Regions from separate parts of the Homo sapiens genome. Here region 1 is linked to region 2. The links come from fine-mapping of genetic effects on gene expression. A gene starts in region 2. The other region holds a variant in brackets. All regions are shown on one strand. Distances are from middle to middle.

The links. PIP is the estimated chance that this variant, and not a neighbour inherited with it, causes the effect.
Region 1: its variant is fine-mapped to the expression of CBFA2T2 in tibial nerve (GTEx, PIP 0.98).

The regions. Positions count from the first base shown.
Region 1 is chr20:33,680,206-33,689,525 of GRCh38, reverse strand. E2F1 (E2F transcription factor 1) reads left to right here and starts at 3,141. Exons shown (of 7, transcript NM_005225.3): 1 at 3,141-3,522; 2 at 9,110-9,200. The coding sequence starts at 3,262. RefSeq lists silencers at 2,802-3,301, 3,412-3,771 and an enhancer at 8,773-9,320. The variant T/G (reference allele first, on the strand shown) is at 5,477.
Region 2 is chr20:33,484,202-33,493,436 of GRCh38, reverse strand. CBFA2T2 (CBFA2/RUNX1 partner transcriptional co-repressor 2) reads right to left here and starts at 3,341. Exons shown (of 11, transcript NM_001032999.3): 1 at 3,136-3,341. The coding sequence starts at 3,169. RefSeq lists silencers at 3,022-3,301, 3,312-3,531 and an enhancer at 3,626-4,174.

The sequences.
Region 1 (9,320 bases), 200 kb before region 2:
CCAACAGATTGCATCCCCTCGAACTCCTCTAGTTTGGTTGGTGAAGGTGGTGATGGAAATAAGCACCTATGAACCAAGCCACTATCCACCATAATACCCTTTAGAAACTACACTTTATAATCTTGACAGCCCTGAGCCTGGCTTTTGGGGTATTTACAGAGGGTGGCAAGGGCAGGTCCTGGGTTTTGCAGTGGGACAAGTGAAGTTCTCATCTCAGTTCTGCTGTGTGACCTTGAGCTATGAATGCCCCTCTCTGAGCCTCTTCCTTCCTGCACCATGTGGATAAACAAGCTTACTTACGGGATTATGGGGTTGAAAGGAGATCATCAATGGAAGTGGCTGCCCAGTGACTGTGGATTTTTTGGAAACTGTTTTTTGAAAACTGTTGACATTGAGAACAGCCTTATCAGGAGCTGCCAGGCTTAGGGCCAAGGGGCCTCATCTATCAGGCTTTTCTGCTTTCAAGTAGGTATTAATAGGTACAGAAGGCCCTTATCTCTTCCTCAGTTTCATGCTAGGAATGCTGGTCTTCACTCCTTTCTGCTTCAGCAGGACCTGAAGGATTGTGGGACGGAGGGCGCCTACTTCTACCTGGATGTGTACTTGAATACTCTGGGGCGGGCAGGACTTTGGAAAACCCCCAACCTCAGCCTCACCAAGCCTGAAAAATAACCTTTTCATCTACTTGGTAAACTCAGGCCCTTTTGGCCTCAAATTTCCTCATCATAAAATGGAGCAATAATAATAGACATCTCTCTTTGCCAGCCACCACAGTTAAACCAGCACAGTGCTTGGTATATAATAGGTGCTTAATAAGTGTTTGTTGAATGACTTGGGTTTGAGAGGGCTTCACACAAATGAATGTTAGTGTTACTGGGACCCTGTGGGAAGGTGCAGGGAAAGGACACTCTTTCCATCTGGAATGGGAATGTGCTGGTTTCTCTTGCTCTCTGCCAGCACCTGCGTTGGTTGTTTAGAATGGGACCTACCCCTCAGCTTCTTTATGGAGAGGGGATGGGGAAGGGGGACAGGCAGACCTCAGGGCTGGGAATGCAGTGTAGGCCCAATTTGGTCACTGGTTGGCTTCACAGTTACTTTCTCCTGAAAGGGCCTCAGTTTTCCTATCCATACAGCAAGAGGCTTATGTGGTCTCTGTGGTCCCTTCTAGCTATGATACATTCTAGGATTTGCAATGAGTAATTTCAGAAACTACTCATTGGAGGGGAAAACAACTCCTGATTTCCTAAACCACCTCATAGTTTGTAAAACACTTTCCAATTCCTTATGCTTTTCATTCTCCTGGCAACCCTGGAAGGGGCCAGGGCAAGGTCTGTGTGCCCATTTGAAACTAAGGGTGAGAAGCATCCTCAGGAGCTGTGATTTGAGGCTGCACCACTCATTTTGATTATGCTGGTACACCAGTTTGCTTTCAAATGTGAGTATGCATAAAAATAACCTGGAAGCTTGGTGAGGTGGCAGTCACCTGGAGTACCAGCTATGCTGGAGGCTGAGGCGGGAGGATCTCTTGAGCCCAGGGGTTTGAGACTACCCTGGGCAACATAGTGAGACCTCGTCTATATAAAATAAATAGGAAAAAAAAAATAAGATACTGGCTTTTCTAATTCCCTAAGTGTCAAAAAAAAAAAAAGAAAAAGAATAACAAATATCACCTGGAAAGGGGACATGGCATTGTTAAAATGCAGATTCTTGGGCACCTAGAGATTTTAAATTGGCAGGGCCAGGGTGGGCCCAAAATTAGCAAGTGACCACGTGGTTCTGAAGCCAGTGGCCTAAGGACCACCCTTGCAGAACCGTGGTCTCCTTGTCACAGTCTAGGCAGCCTCTGGCTTAGCCTCTGTTTCTTTCATAACCTTTCTCAGCGCCTGCTCTGGGCCAGACCAGTGTTGGGAGGAGTCGCTACTGAGCTCCTAGATTGGCAGGGGAGGCAGATGGAGAAAAGGAGTGTGTGTGGTCAGCATTGGAGCAGAGGCAGCAGTGGGCAATAGAGGAAGTGAGTAAATCCTTGGGAGGGCTCCCTAGAAGTGATGTGTTTTCTTTTTTTGTTTTAGAGACAGGATCTCGCTCTGTCGCCCAGGCTGGTGTGCAGTGGCATGATCATAGCTCACTGCAGCCTCGACTTCTCGGGCTCAAGCAATCCTCCCACCTCAGCCTCCCAAGTAGCTGGGACTACGGGCACACGCCACCATGCCTGGCTAATTTTTGTATTTTTTGTAGAGATGGGTCTTCACCATGTTGATCAGGCTGGTCTCGAACTCCTGGGCTCATGCGATCCACCCCGCCAGCTGATTACAGGGATTCCGGTGGTGAGCCACCGCGCCCAGACGCCACTTCATCGTATTGTAAACGTCTGTTACCTTTCTGTTCCCCTGTCTACTGGACTGTGAGCTCCTTAGGGCCACGAATTGAGGATGGGGCACAGAGCAAGCTCTCCAAACGTTTGTTGAATGAGTGAGGGAATGAATGAGTTCAAGCAGATGCTATACGTTGGCTGTTGGAGATTTTGGCTAAAATGGGACTTGCAGGAAAGCCCGACGTCCCCCTCGCCATTTCCAGGCACCGCTCTTCAGCTTGGGCTCTGGGTGAGCGGGATAGGGCTGGGTGCAGGATTAGGATAATGTCATGGGTGAGGCAAGTTGAGGATGGAAGAGGTGGCTGATGGCTGGGCTGTGGAACTGATGATCCTGAAAAGAAGAGGGGACAGTCTCTGGAAATCTAAGCTGAGGCTGTTGGGGGCTACAGGTTGAGGGTCACGTGCAGAAGAGAGGCTCTGTTCTGAACCTGCACTATAGAAAGGTCAGTGGGATGCGGGAGCGTCGGGGCGGGGCGGGGCCTATGTTCCGGTGTCCCCACGCCTCCAGCAGGGGACGCCCGGGCTGGGGGCGGGGAGTCACACCGCGCCTGGTACCATCCGGACAAAGCCTGCGCGCGCCCCGCCCCGCCATTGGCCGTACCGCCCCGCGCCGCCGCCCCATCCCGCCCCTCGCCGCCGGGTCCGGCGCGTTAAAGCCAATAGGAACCGCCGCCGTTGTTCCCGTCACGGCCGGGGCAGCCAATTGTGGCGGCGCTCGGCGGCTCGTGGCTCTTTCGCGGCAAAAAGGATTTGGCGCGTAAAAGTGGCCGGGACTTTGCAGGCAGCGGCGGCCGGGGGCGGAGCGGGATCGAGCCCTCGCCGAGGCCTGCCGCCATGGGCCCGCGCCGCCGCCGCCGCCTGTCACCCGGGCCGCGCGGGCCGTGAGCGTCATGGCCTTGGCCGGGGCCCCTGCGGGCGGCCCATGCGCGCCGGCGCTGGAGGCCCTGCTCGGGGCCGGCGCGCTGCGGCTGCTCGACTCCTCGCAGATCGTCATCATCTCCGCCGCGCAGGACGCCAGCGCCCCGCCGGCTCCCACCGGCCCCGCGGCGCCCGCCGCCGGCCCCTGCGACCCTGACCTGCTGCTCTTCGCCACACCGCAGGCGCCCCGGCCCACACCCAGTGCGCCGCGGCCCGCGCTCGGCCGCCCGCCGGTACGGACCCCAGGGACGCCGCGCCGACAGCGCCGCCTGTGCCCCCCGCGCAGACCCGGGAGGGCGCCGTGTTTGGCCTGGAGGCGGCAGGGGGCGGGGGAGGGGTTGACTGAGGCGCCCAGGCTGGGCGGTGCAGAGCCGGGGTTGGGCCTCCGGGCCCCGCCCTGGGGTGCGGGGTGACCTCGGGCCGGTCCCTGTTTGCTGCTCTGTGCTCTGCGCCTCAGCTTCCTCACCGGAGCCTCCCCAGCGTCGGACTCAGTGATAATAATAGCCCACGTGTATTCAACTGGCGTTTACTGCATGCCAGGCCTTTGGGCGACTTCAAGCCAGCTAAAACTCACAACCCCGCTGTGAGCTGTGTTGTCACTGTGCCCATCTGACGGAGGAGGAACTGAGGCCCAGAGAGGGAAAGTGACTTGCCCCTGGTCACACGGCTGCAGGTGGTGGGGCTGGGATTTGAACTGAGGCCTGCTGGCTTCAGCTCAGAATTTGCATCTCGGTAGTGAGCACAGCTGCTAGGGGAAGTGAAGGCGGGGCGGAGGAAAGTCCTGGGGCCTAACCGTTGGTGAGCCATTGAGGAGACCCTCCTTCCTGCCTCGATGCTGACTGCCAGGTGCAGGCCTGGCCGGCCAGGCCTCTGGGGACAGCCCTCCTGGCTGGGAGGCCTTCTCTGCAGGGGCGGGGCAGCTGGACCAGCTGCTGATCCCCTCCCTCTGCCTGTCCTTCCATCTGCCACCCTCCACCCTCCCAGGCCCTGGTTGCCATGGAACCTCATTAATCAGGCAGGCCGACCCCTGAGTCTCTGTAGAAGGACTAGGTGGGCTGGGCCTCTGGGAGCTGGAGAGGAGGCCCCCAGTGCCAGGAGAGAAAATGTCTCAGGGAGATCCTTTAATAAAGCCCTCCCTGATCGCTGAGCTCAAGACGAATTCAGACTGGAGGGCCCAGAAGAGGCGGCTGAATTCCAGTGGGAGAAGGGATTGGAGGCGTAGAAGCCTGGAGCTGGGAACTGTGGGGCACAGGGCAGGGTGTGGAGACCAGTTTGACTGGCGCAGCCTATGGGTGAAGGTGGGGCTCTGGTGTGCAGGCGGGGTCTGGCCAGGCAGGATGGGGTCTCAGCAGGGAACTTGGAGCAAGTGGGAGGGGTGAGGCAGGACTCAGGACAAGGAGGTAGAAGCTGCCTAACTGCTGATGGGGGTGTGGGTGGCAGCTGGTCCCTGAGGCATCCTGAGGAGGCTCCCCCAACCCCCTTGGCCCCATGCCCAGTGCTGCCTTCCGGAATCACCACAATGCTAATAATAATAACAATAGCAGCCACCATTGTTTTGAGGATGTCTTGTGTGCCAGGCTCTGTGCCAAGCGCTTTACTTAATTAACTCATTTAACCCCATCAGCAGCAGTCCCTTTTTACAGATTGGGAAGCTGAGGCCTAGAGATGTTAGAATCTTCCCATGTCATTCTGCTCTTGAGTGGGGAGAGCAGTCTGCGTTTCCTCTGAGGTTGACCTCTGGGATGCCTTGCTTTCTGGGGATGCTGATACAGGTTGAAGAAAGGGCAAGAAGGGCTTTTAGGGGCCCTCCCTCTTAATGAGTGGGTGGGAGGGGGTTGTACCAGGGGTGGGCCAGGTGGCCTGTCTCCTGTACTCCAGGGGCCTGTTCCTGTGGGTACCACTTGGGACCTGGGCAAGCATCTTCCATTCAGCTGTGTGACAAGCATTATAGAAGGCTCAGGTCTGCGGAAATCTAACAACCTGAGGGTCTTGTCCTCAAAGATCTGAACAGGATTATGGGTTCTAGGATCAAAGGGAGGGACAGGGGCAAAGAAAAATGCCCTCCACTCCACCTGTCAGGGGCAGGCTCATTGGCCTGGGCATTCCATTCATTCAACAGTTGTTGAGTTAGTGAATGCCCAGGAGGCACTAGGCCCAGAGACAAGGAGCCCTGGCCCCCAGTGTACT[T/G]AAGGGCCAGGAGGCTGGCACCATTCTGGAACTGAAGTCCAGAAAGTCCACAGGTTTGGCTTTTGGCCTCTCTGCACTGGCATTTGTCTGGCACAGTCCTTGAAATAAGCTACAGGCTTAGCTTCTATACCAGCAGGCATTCTGTATACAAGGCTCTGCAATTCAGCCATTCCTCTTGGCCCTGCCTGTCCACTTCCACAAACTCAAGTATTATAACTATAATACATGTTTAATGTAGAAAACTTAACTTTTTTATTTATTTATTTATTTTTTTTTTGGAGACAGGGTCTCATTCTGTTACCCAGGCTGGAGTGCAGTGGCGTGATTGCGGCTCACTGCAACCTCTGCCTCCCAAGTTCAAGCTATTCTGTGCCTCAGCCTCCCGAGTAGCTGGGATTACAGGCGTGTACCACCATGCCCAGCCAATTTTTGTATTTTTAGTAGAGAGAGGGTCTTGCCATGTTGCCCAGGCTGGTCTTGAACTCCTGAGTTCAGACAATCTGACTGTCTCAGCCTCTCAAAGTGCTGGGATTACAGGTGTGAGTCACCATGCCCAGCTGAAAACTTAACTCTTAACTCTTTTTTTTTTTTTTTTTTTTGAGATGAAGTCTCGCTCTGTCACCTAGGTTGGAGTACAGTGGCGCCATCTCGGCTCACCGCAACCTCTACCTCCTGGGTTCAAGCGATTCTTCTGCCTCAGCCTCCCGAGTAGCTGGGACTACAGACGTGCACCACCATACCCGGCTAATTTTTGTATTTTTGGTAGAGATGAGGTTTCACCATATTGGTCAGGCTGGTCTTGAACTCCTGACCTCAAGTGATCTGCCCGCCTCGGCCTCCCAAAGTGCCAGGATTACAGGCGTGAGCCACTGCGCCTGGCCAAAAACTTAACTCTTAAGAAACTAGAAAGTTGACGGCAGGATCCCAGCCCTATTCATTTTTTTCCTTTTTTTCCCTAAGGCTATTTTTGTTTGTGGTGGTTGTGACAGTTTTTGTTTTTTAAAGTTTTAAAAATTGTAGTTTTTCCTGTATCATTCACACCATTCAGATATGGCACTGGTCTCCCACAGTCCTTCCAGAGGCTGCCCCGAAATGTATTCTATAATAATATAAACTGAACCAGAGAAAAGTTTCATGAGCTTTTTAATCCAAAAGGGATCATATAAATATATCGCCCTGTGACAGTGTTTTGCTTGTCTGTATGTGTGAGGGGATTCTTGTCAACCTGCCTCGGTCCTTGACAGCTGCGTGGTGTTCAAGGGGCTAAACAAAGCACAGCTTTCGTGACCCCCTTCATGGATGGGTGTTCGAGTCATCCAGATTTTTTCAGCAGTGAATGTCTTCACCCCTGCGTTTCGGGGCCCCTCTGCCAGTGTTTATCTAGGGAGAAGTGGCAGAAATGGCATCCACTCAAGCCTTTGTTTTAGGGCGTGGCACTGACCTGCCTTCAGGGGTGGACAAGGGTGGGGATCCCAGGGAGAAGGCAAGGGGTGCAGATGGCAGAAGCATGCTAGGGTTTGGGCCCCAGGGGCGAGTATGGAGGGGGATACATTCTGGCTGGGTTCTGGGGAGGTGGGGCACGTGGCGGGTATGAGTGTGGGCTCTGTACCAGCCAACTAGGGTGCAAGTCCTGGGTCCACCTCTCACTGTGTGGCCTCTCTCAGGTGGAGGCCATCATAGCACCTGCCAAAAGGTGGCCGGAGGGTTGCAGGGGAAGCAGTTGAGTACACAGTGCTTAGAGCACAACAGCTCTTCTTTCCCCTGGGTGCCTTCAAAAGTCAGTGAATGTGCACAAGAGGGAGTGGTTCATCAGCATGGGGGGGGTTCATTCAGCAAACATTTGTTGATGCCAGGCTCCATGGCAGACACTATAGATTCTCAAGTGATTCAGACACCTCTGAGGGTGAGATAGATACATCTGCAGAAATGTGTAGGGAGAGACAGAATGTGGCAAAAGGTTGGGTTTGAGGCAGTTCAGAGGGAGAAGAGGTGACACCTCCTAGCTGATGCGTAAGGTTTCTGCCCACAGAGGTAGAGGGAGCAGGCGTGAAGTGGGGAGGGTGGGAGGGATGCAAGGGCAGTCTAGATTTCTGGGAAAACGTGACTCGGGTTCCTCTAGAGAAGCAGTGGCAGATGAGAGTACAAAGGCAATGGGGAGCTGGAGGAAGGCCTTAAGCAGGGGCGGCGGCATGGTAAGGTTTGTAGGAGGACTGGCTGCAGCAGAGGCAGGGAGACCAGTGTGGAGTCTGCTCAGCAGCCCACTGGGAAGGTGGTGATCGCCGTGGTGATGAGCAGTTCTTGGTAGCTGCATGTGAGGAGGGTGACAGGTCAGGAACTCTAGCTCAGGAAACCCTGTGGATGGTGGAGGGGAAGATCAGTCTGGTTTTGGTCCGGGTACTTTTGAGCAGCCTGTGAGACCTCCAGGACAGTCCCAATCCTGGAGTGTCTGAACTAAGCCAGAGTGCTTAGAGCTTGGGTTCTTCCTCAGACCGTCTTGGGTACAAATCCTGACTCTACCACTTCCTGGGCCTCCCTGGGCTTTAGTTGCCTTATCTGGAAAATGGGGCCATTTTTATACAGCCAGTCCGTTGAATGGAATGAACTAATGGATGCAAGGAACTTGATGAGCACCAGCTGCTACCATGCGTATAGATTAGTCAAAAACCAGAGAGAAGGTGATTTAGCCAAGGGACCTATGTAATCAGTGGCTTAGCTGGGCATGGTGGCTGACTAGTCCCAGCACGACTACAGTGAAGGCTGAGATGGGAGAATTGCTTGAGCCTAGGAGTTTGAGACCAGTCTGGGCAACATAGGGAGACCCCATCTCTACGAGAAATAGAAAAGTTAGCTGGTCTTGGAGGGATGCGCCTGTGGTCCCAGCTGTTTGGAAGGCTGAGGTGGGAGGATTGCTTGAGCCCAGGAAGTCTAGGCTGCAGAGAGTTGTGATCATACCACTGCACTCCAGCATAGTCAACAGAGCGATACCCTGTCTAAAAAAGAAAAAAAAATAGTGCCTTAAAACAACAAACATTTATTATATAGTTTTTGTGGGTCAGGAATTCAGGGAAGACTTATCCAGCTCTGGCTTGGGGTCTCTGGAGATTCAGCCAGTGTTTGGGTTCTGGCTGCTAACAGAAGTTGTGACTAAGTGTTGCTGTTGGGAGGAGGCCATGGTTTCTTGCCCATCATTAGGGCTACTTGAGTGCCCATATGATATGGCAGAGTAAGTGACCCAATACAGAGCAAGGAGGAAGCTCCAGCGCCTCTGACCCAGTCTCAAAAGTGACAGGCCATCCCTTCCACCACATTCCATTCATTCATCCCCAGAAGCAAGTTACCAGGTCTGGCTCATAAGGGGAGAATTAGGCTATATCTTTTGAAGGAGAAGGATCAGAAAGTTTGCGGATGTGTTTTAAATCCACCGCTAGACCCCAGAGAAGTGGTGAAAATGGAATGTCCTGTGTGGTAGGACTGTGACTCTCAGGCTATGTCCCCTCTGATCTCCCTCAGTCACACACTCAGGCATCCTGCTAGAGAAACTGAGGCGAGGGTAGCCCAGAGGCACCCAGCCTTAAGCCAGGTCTCTTCTGGCCTCACTCCTGGTTACTGGGCATCCTCCCGTTTTCGCCACAGGTGAAGCGGAGGCTGGACCTGGAAACTGACCATCAGTACCTGGCCGAGAGCAGTGGGCCAGCTCGGGGCAGAGGCCGCCATCCAGGAAAAGGTACCTATGGAGCTTGGGCTGGGCAGACCCCCTGTGACCAGGCCCAGGTTAGGGATGTGAACAGACAAACATGCTTGCAAGCTAACGTCTGGCTTGTCGGGCTTGAGCCAGGCCTCTGAG
Region 2 (9,235 bases):
GATTTTAAGACTGAACTCCTATATTCTCTTTCCCAGCATGCCAGTTAAAAACTTCAATCAAGGCCAGGTGCAGTTACTCATGCCTGTAATCCCAGCATTTTGGGAAGCCGAGGCGGGCAGATCACCTGCGGTCAGGCGTTCGAGACCAGCCTGGCCAATGTAGTGAAACCCCATCTCTACTATAAATACAAAAATTAGCCGGACGTGTTGGCACGCACCTGTAATACCAGCTACTTGGGAAGCTGAGGCAGGAGAACTGCTTGAACCCAGGAGGCGGAGGTTGCAGTGAGCCGAGATCATGCCATTGCACGCCAGCCTGAGCAACAAGAGTGAAACTCCGTCTCAAAAAAAAAAAAAAAAAAAAAAAACCAAAACTTCAATCAAGGGCGGGTGCAGAGGCTCACACTTGTAATCCCAGAACTTTGGGAGGCTGAGGCGGGCAGATCACTTGAGGTCAGGAGCCCAGCCAAAACATGGTTAAACCCCGTCTCTACAAAAAATACAAAAAAAAATTAGCCAGGCATGGTGGTGAGCACCTGTAATCCCAGCTCCTCAGGAGGCTGAGTACTACACCAAGTGTACTGTCTAGGAATGTAATACAGAATTCTCTTAGAAACACTAAAAAAGGCCAGGCAAAGTGGCTCATGACTTTAATCCCAGCAATTTGGATGGCTGAGGAAGGAGGATTACTCAAGCCCAGGACTTCCGGACTAGCATGGGCAACAAAGCAAGACCCCATCTCTACAAAAAATAAAAAAATTAGCTGGGTGTGGTGGCGCCTGGAGTCCCAGCTACTCAAGTGGCTGAGGCAGGAGAATCACTTGAACCCAGGAGGTTGAGGCTGCTGTGGGCCATGATGACGCCACTGCACTCCAGTCTGGGTGACAGAGAGAGACTGTCTCAAAAAAAGGAAAAAAGAAAACAAAAATGTAGTTACGTAACAGAAGCAAAAGTTGTGCTTTTGGGCATATTTTAAACTAAATACTACACAAAAGAAATTTGGACACAATCTTTTTTTTTTAAGTGAAAGCAAGTTTATTATGGAAGTAAAGAAACAAAGGAAGACTACTTCATAGGCAGAAGAGCCCCCCAATTTTTTCAAATAAAAAGTCCTTTCTGGTCAGGCTTGGTGACTCACGCTCGTAATCCCAGCACTTTGGGAGGCTGAGGTGGGTGAATTACCTGAGGTCAGGGGTTCGAGACCAGCCTGACCAATATGGTGAAACCCTGTCTCTACTAAAAATATAAAAATTAAGGCCGGGCGCAGTGGCTCATGCCTCTAATCCCAGCACTTTGAGAGGCTGAGGCAGATGGATCCCCTGAGTTCAGGAGTTCACGACCAGCCTGGCCAACATGGTAAAACCGTCTCTACTAAAAATGCAAAAAATTAGTCAGGTGTGGTGGCAGGCGCCTGTAATCGCAGCTACTCTGGAGGCTGATGCAGGAGAATCGCTTGAACCTGGGGCGGGGGGAGGTTGCAGTGAGCCGATATTGTACTACTGCACTCCAGCCTGGGCAACAAGAACAAAACTCCGTCTCAAAAAAAATAATAAAATAAAATAAAATAATTGGCCGAGCGTGGTGGCATATGCCTGTAGTCCCAGCTACTCCGGAGGCTGAGACAGGAGAATAGCTTGAACCCAGGAGACGGAGGTTGCAGTGAGCCAAGATCACACCCCTGCACTCCAGTCTGGGCGACAGAGCAAGATTCCGTCTCAAAAAAAAAAAAGCCTTTCATTTTACAGAGATGCTGTACCTTTGCAAGCCTAAAAGAGTAATCACTATCCGCCTCTTTAGTTGGAAATTTCATGAGGAATGGATCAAACCATCAAAAGCAGTAACTGCAAGCTGGGTGTATCTACTTTTTCTATCTTCAATCCAACATTTAATGGGTGCAAAAAAAAAGAAGCGTAAAGCCTCCCTTTCACGTGTTTAAGGACATCAGCTCTGAGACTAGTACTCAGAGTACCTTCTGTTACTCAGTTTCATCCTCTGCAAAATGGGCATCCTCAAATAATGTCTTACTTAGGATGTCATCAAGATTAAACAATTAAAAAAACATGCAAAACATGTTTATCTGTTTCCTCATTTACTATGTCTCTCCCTCTCCTAACTAAACTCAAAACCCCAGTTCGGTCTATCTTGTTTATTGTATTCCCAGGGCCTGGAATGGTATTTTTAAACTTACTATATGATTTAATAAATATTAAGTGAATAGAATGCAAAATGTCTGGTGCTCAAAAAAATGTTGGCTATTATAATTACAATAATGAAAAACAATTAAAATTTTATTGTTCTTATTCAGAGAAGCCACCCCTCCCCCAAGGATCTCACACATCAAGGAGGAACACTAGATAAATACTGGAATGGCTAAATGGAAGTAAGAATAACAATTAGATCATGGAGCAGGACTAACAGACAACAAAACAAAATCTTAACACGGCTAGAGCCTAATTTCGGACTTTTCCGAGTGCGGTGCACACTGGATCAGATTAATAAAGGACGATTACAATAATGACAGTTTTCACAATTGTGTGTGTGCCACGGTCGGTGTCAAGCGTTTTACTGGCCTCACAAAACCCAAGAACCCTGGGGGAGGGAGGGAACCCGCTCCACATCCCCATTTTGCAGATGGGGGAACTGAGGCACCGGGAGAGCCAAGGTCACTACCTAAATGGGGAAGCCTGGATGTGAACCCAGGTAGCCAACTACTGAGCCTGCGCTCAAACAGGCCCTCCGAGGGGCCATTCTCATCTCCTCCAACCCTCAACATCGGGCGGGTGTAGTATTTCCCCAGGAGCCGGACTTCGTGGCCCCAGCGCTGGGACAACAAAATGATTCTTGCCCGCCGGCAAGTCCCATGGACGCCGGCCCGGCCTAAGTTCCGAGGCCGCGGGCCCCACAATTTCCCTCACACCGTGAGCCCCGAGCTCTTCGGGCGGCGCAGGAAGCGACGGGGTGGCCTCAGGAGCCCGGGAAGGCCCGCCCCGCTGCGTGACCTTGGATCCGCCGCCCCGCTTCGGGCCTCAGTTTCCACTCCCGGCCTCGCGCCCGGGGCACTCGGAATCACCGCGCCTGCGGAGCCGCAGGCCCTCACACGCCCCCCTCGGCCGCCCGCATTCACGCCCCACTTACGCTGGAAGGCGGCCGCTCCAGGGACGCCTACCATCGCCGAGCGCCGCCGCCGCGCGCCGCCCGCCTCTACCCGCGACACGGGTCCCTCGCAGGCGCCGCCCGCCTCGACCCGCGGCCCGGGTCCCTCGCAGGCGTCGCCGCGAGATCTGCAGCCGCCGAGCTAACCAGACACCACCACCGCTGCTGTCGCCGTCGCCGCCGCCGCCGCCGCCGTTAGGCCGCGCCCCGCCCCGCCCCCGGCTGGCCCCGCCCCGCCCGCCGGGCACGCCCCCGCCGCGCGCTCTCGCCGCCAGGCCAACGCACGCGGAAGCCCGGCCCCAAGACCAGCTCCCATTAAGCACCGCCCCCTAACCTGACCCGCCCCTTCCGCGGGAACCGACCGCCGAATCCCGGCGCAGCCTGCTTCTCAGACCTGCCCCCTCGGCGTCACGCGCGCCCGTCACGCGCACGGCCCACTTTCTAGCTCCAGACTTCCCGGTGTAGCCAGGGCAGTGGCCCAGGCTCGGGGGCCGAGTGCTAGGGGGAGGGATTACAACGAGTGGCAACGTCTCACCTGAGTTCTCCAGGTACAGGCCTGATGGCTTTTGCGCATGCCTTTGAGCGAGCCCCCTGGCTCAAAGTGTTTTTGGCCTGAAGTATTCTAAATGCCTAAAATTTCATCATCGTAATTTTAATAACTGTTGGCCGGGCGTGGTGGCCCACGCCTGTAATCCTAGTACTTTGGGAGGCCAAAGGAGAGTCACTTGAGCTCAGGAGTTTGAGACTAGCGTCTCTATTAAAAAAATAAATAAATAAAAATAAAAAATAGACCAGGCACGGTGGCTCAGGCCTATAATCCTAACACTTTGGGAGGCCGAGGAGGGTGGATTACCTGAGGTCAGAACTTCGAGGCTAGTCTGGCCAATGTGGCGAAACGCTGTCTCTACTAAAAATACAAAACTTAGAGCCGGGCGCAGTGGCTCAAGCCTGTAATCCTAGCACTTTGGGAGGCCGAGGCGGGAGGATCACGAGGTCAGGAGTTTGAAGACCAGTCTGGCCTATAAGGTGAAACCCTATCTCTACTAAAAAAATAAATAAATAAAAATACAAAAATTAGCCTGGTGCGGTGGCGCGTGCCTTTAGTCCCAGCTACTCGGGAGGCTGGGGCAGGAGAATCACTTGAATCCGGGAGGGGGAGGTTGCAGTGAGCCGAGATCGGAGCCATTGCACTCCAGCCTGAGCAAAAAGAGCAAAACTCCGTATCAAAAAAACAAAACAAGGCCAGGAGCTGTGGCTCACCCCTGTAATCCCAGCACTTTGGGACGCCGAAGCTGGCAGATCACAGCTCAGGATTTGGAGACCAGCCTGACCAACGTGGTGAAACCCCGTCTGTACTAAAAATACAAAAATTAGCTGGACTTGGTTTCACAAGCCTGTAATCCCAGCTAATCAGGAGGCTGAGACAGGAGAATTGCTTGAACCCCGGAGGCGGAGGTTGCACCGAGCCAAGATCACGACACTGCACTCCCACCTGGGTGACAGAGCGAGACTCCCTCTCAAAAAACAAAACAAAACAAAACAAAAAAATTAGCTGGGCGCGGTGGCGGGTGTCCATAATCCCAGCTACTCGGGAGGCTGAGGCAGGAGAGTCGCTTGAACCTGGGAGGCAGAGGTTGCAGTGAACCGAAATCGCGCCACTACACTCTAGCCTGGGCAACAGAGGGAAGCTCCGTCTGAAAAGAAAAGAAAAGAATAAAGACTCTTGTTTCTCAGTATTATTTCAGATATCTCACACCAAGAATATAGAATGCATTTGTATTTTACTTGTGTATTGAAAACAAATTTTAAAAGACAGAATGTAGGCCGGCCGGGTACAGTGGTTTATGCCTCTAATCCCGGCACTTTGGGAGGCCAAGGCAGGTGGATCGCTTGAGTCCAGGAGTTCAAGACTAGCCTGGGTAACACGGGGAAACCGCGCCTGTACAAAAAATACAAAAATTAGCCAGACATGGTGTTGCACACACGCTTGTAGTCTCAGCTACACAGAAGGCTGCGGTGGGAGGATCATATGAGCCAGGGAGTCAGAGGTTTCAGTTACCCCAGATCAGACCAATGTACTCTGGCCTGATCTAACAGATCAGGCGTGAGTAACAGAGTGAGACCCTGTCTCAAAAAAAGAAAAAAAAATGTAGAAATAAGAACATATGTGCATATACCAGCTGGGTATAGTGGTTCACACCTGTAATCCTAGCACTTTGGGAGGCTGAAGTGGGCAGATCACAAAAGGTCAGGAGTTCGAGACCAGCCTGGCCAACATGGTGAAAACCTGTCTCTACTAAAAATACAAAAGTTAGCCAGGAGTGGTGGCGTGTGCCTGTAGTCTCAGCTACTCAGGAGGCTGAGGCAGGAGGATGGCTTGAACTTGGGAGGTGGCAGTTGCAGTGAGCCAAGATCATGCCACTGCACTCCAGCCTGGGCCACAAAGCAAGACTCTGTCTCAAAACAAAACAAAAAAAAAAAAAAGAGAGAGAAGAAAAGAACATATGTGGCCAGGCATGGTGGCTCATGCCTGTAATCCCAGCACTTTGGGAGACTGAGGCAGACAGATCACCTGAGGTTGGGAGTTCGAGACCAGCCTGACCAACATGGAGGAACCCTGTCTCTAGTAAAAATACACAATTTGCTGGGCACATGCCTGTAACACCAGCTACTCAGGAGGCTGAGGCAGGAGAATCACTTAAACCCGGGAGGCAGAGGTTGCAGTGAGCCGAGATTGCGCCATTGCACTTCAGCCTGGGCAACAAGAGCGAAACTTCATCTCAAAAAAAAGAAAAGAACATGCATGTATATATATACTCTTTAAAGTGCCATGAGCACTGATGAAGAAAGCCCTCCCTAGAACGTTTTTGGAAAACACAATAAAAGGTACCAATGTACTCAGAGAGTCCCAGGAAGGGTCTCTAAACCACAACTAAAAGGCTATGAGGAATTCAGATGGGGTTAACAGCCCAGCTGAAATTTCACTTCCTTTGTGAAAATCTCTCCAATGCTCCTATCAAAAAATAATTTTCAAGACTGGGCAATAAAGTGAGACCTCCTTTCTACAAAAAATAAAAAAATTAGCAAGGCATGGTGGTGCACGCCTGTAGTCCCAGCTACTCAGGAGGCTGAGGCAGGAGGATTGGCTTGAGCCCAGGAGGTCAAGGCTGCAGTGAGCTGTGATCCGACCACTGCACTCCAGCATGGGTGACAGAGCAAGACCGTGCCTCAAAAAAAGAGTGATAATAATTTGGCCGGATGCGGTGGCTCATGCCTGCAATCTCAGCACTTTGGAAGGCTGAGGCAGGTGGATCACCTGAGGTCAGGAGTTTGAGACCAGCCTGGCCAACATGGTGAAACCCCATCTCTACTAAAAATACAAAAATTAGCTCGCATTGTGGCGGGCACCTGTAATCCCAGCTACTTGGGAGGCTGAGGCAGGAGAATCGCTTGAACCAGGAGACTGAGGTTATGGTAAGTCGAGATCATGCCACTGCACTCCAGTCTAGCGATAGAGTGAGACTCTGTCTCAAAAATAATTACTATTGACCGGGTGCGGTGGCTCACGCCTGTAATCCCAGCACTTTGGGAAGCCAAGGCTGGCGGATCACGAGGTCAGGAGATCGAGACCATCCTGGCTAACACAGTGAAACCCCATCCCTACTAAAAATACAAAAAAAAAAAATTAGCTGGGTGTGGTGGCGGGCGCCTGTAGTCCCAGCTACTTGGAAGGCTGAGGCAGGAGAATGGCGTGAACCTGGGAGGTGGAGCTTGCAGTGAGCTGAGATCGCGCCACCGCACTCCATCCTGGGCGACAGAGCGAGACTCCATCTCAGAAAAAACAACAACAACAACAACAAAAAAAAAACAAAGTGCTGGGATTACAGTCGTGAACCATGGCACCCACCCCGACCAGCTAATTATTATTATTAGTAGTAGTAGTAGTAGTAGAGGTGGTGTCTCTTTGTGTTGCCCAGGCTGGTCTTAAACTCCTAGAGCTCAAGCAATCCTCCAGCCTGGGCCTCTCAAAGTGCTAGAATTGTAAGCACGCGCTACCACACCCAACCTTCAAACTTTTTAAGATTCAAGTAAGAGAGACCGGGCCCAGTGGCTCACGCCTGTAATCCCAGCACTTTGGGAGGCTGAGGCGGGCTGATGATGAGGTCAGGAATTTGAGACCAGCCTGGCCAGCATGATGAAACCTCGTCTCTACTAAAAATACAAAAATTAGCCAGGCGTGGTGGCATGCACCTGTAATCCCAGCTACTCAGGAGGCTGAAAAATGAGAATCGTGCCAGGCATGGTGGCTCACGCCTGTAATCCCAGCACTTTGGGAGGCCGAGGTGGGTGGATTACCTGAGTTCAGGAGTTTGAGACCAGCCTGACCAACATGGAGAAACCCCGTCTCTACTAAAAATACAAAATTAGCCGGACGTGGTGACTCATGCCTGTAATTCCAGCTACTCAGGAGGCTGAGGCAGAAGAATCGCTTGAACCTGGGAGTTGGAGGTTGCGGTGAGCCGAGATCGCGCCACTGCACTCCAGCCTGGGCAACAACAGCAAAATTCCATCTCAAAAAAAAAAAAAAAGAACAAGAATCGCTTGAACCCGGGAGGCGGAGGTTGCAGTGAGCTGAGATTGTGCACTCCAGCCTGGGTGACAGAGTGAGACTCCATTTCAAAAAAAAAAAAAGAACTATTATGAAGAATTTTATGCCCTCAAGTTTGACATTTTAGATAAAATCAATAATTTCCTTGAAAGATACAAACTACTGGCCGGGCACGGTGGCTCACGCCTGTAATCCCAGCACTTTGGGAGGCCGAGGCGGGCAGATCACGAGGTCAGGAGATCGAGACCATCCTGGCTAACACAGTGAAACCCCGTCTCTACTAAAAATACAAAAAAAATTAGCCAGGCGTGGTGTCGGCCGTCTGTAGTCCCAGCTACTCCGGAGGCTGAGGCAGGAGAATGGCGTGAACCTGGGAGACAGAGCTTGCAGTAAGCCAAGATCGTGCCACTGCACTCCAGCCTGGAGAACAGAGCGAGACTCCGTCTCAAAAAAAAAAAAAGAAAAAAAAAGAAAGATGCCAACTACTAAAGCTTACTGAATAAGGTGATCATCTGAATATCCTATATATATTAAGAATATTAGGCCAGGTGCGGTGGTTCACACCTGTAATCCCAGCACTTTGGGAGGCCAAGGTGGGAGGATTCCTTAAACCTAGGAATTCAAGATCAGACTGGGCAACATAATGAGACCCTGTTTCTACAAAAACTAAATTTTAAATGTTAGCAGGCATGCTGGCACAAGACCATGGTCCTAGCTACTTAGTAGGTTGAGGTAGAAAGATCACTTGAACCTGAGAAGTCAAGGCTGCAGTGAGCCGAGATCACATCACTGCACTCCAGCCTGGGCAACAGAGCAAGACTCTGTCTCAGAAAAAAAATTACATTTATGGTTAGGCCAAGCATGGCAGCTCATACCTGTAATCCCAGCATTTTGGGAGGCCTAGGCAGGTGGATTGCTTGAGCCCAGGAGTTCAAGACCAGGCTGGGTAACATGGCAAAACTCCAGCTCTACAAAAAATACAAACATTTGCCATTCATAGTGCTGCATCTCTGTAGTCCTAGCTACTTGGGAGGCTGAGGTGGTAGGATCACGATGTCAGGAGATTGAGACCATCCTGGCCAACATGGTGAAACCCCGTCTCTACTAAAAATACAAAAATTGGCCGGGCATGGTGGCTTACACCTGTAATCCCAGCACTTTGGGAGGTCGAGACAGGCAGATCACCTGAGGTCAGGAGCTGGAGACCAGCCTGGCCAACATGGTGAAACCCCGTCTCTACTAAAGATACAAAAAAAATTAGCTGGACATGGTGGCAGGCGCCTGTAATCCCAGTTACTCGGGAGGCTGAGGCAGGAGAATCACTTGAACCCAGAGGCAGAAGTTGCAGTGAGCCAAGATCGTTCCATTGCACTCCAGCCTGGGGGACAAGAGTGAGACTTTGTCTCAAAAAAAAAAAAAAAATTAGCTGGGCGTGGTAGCGCGAGCCTGTAGTCCCAGCTACTCAGGAGGCTG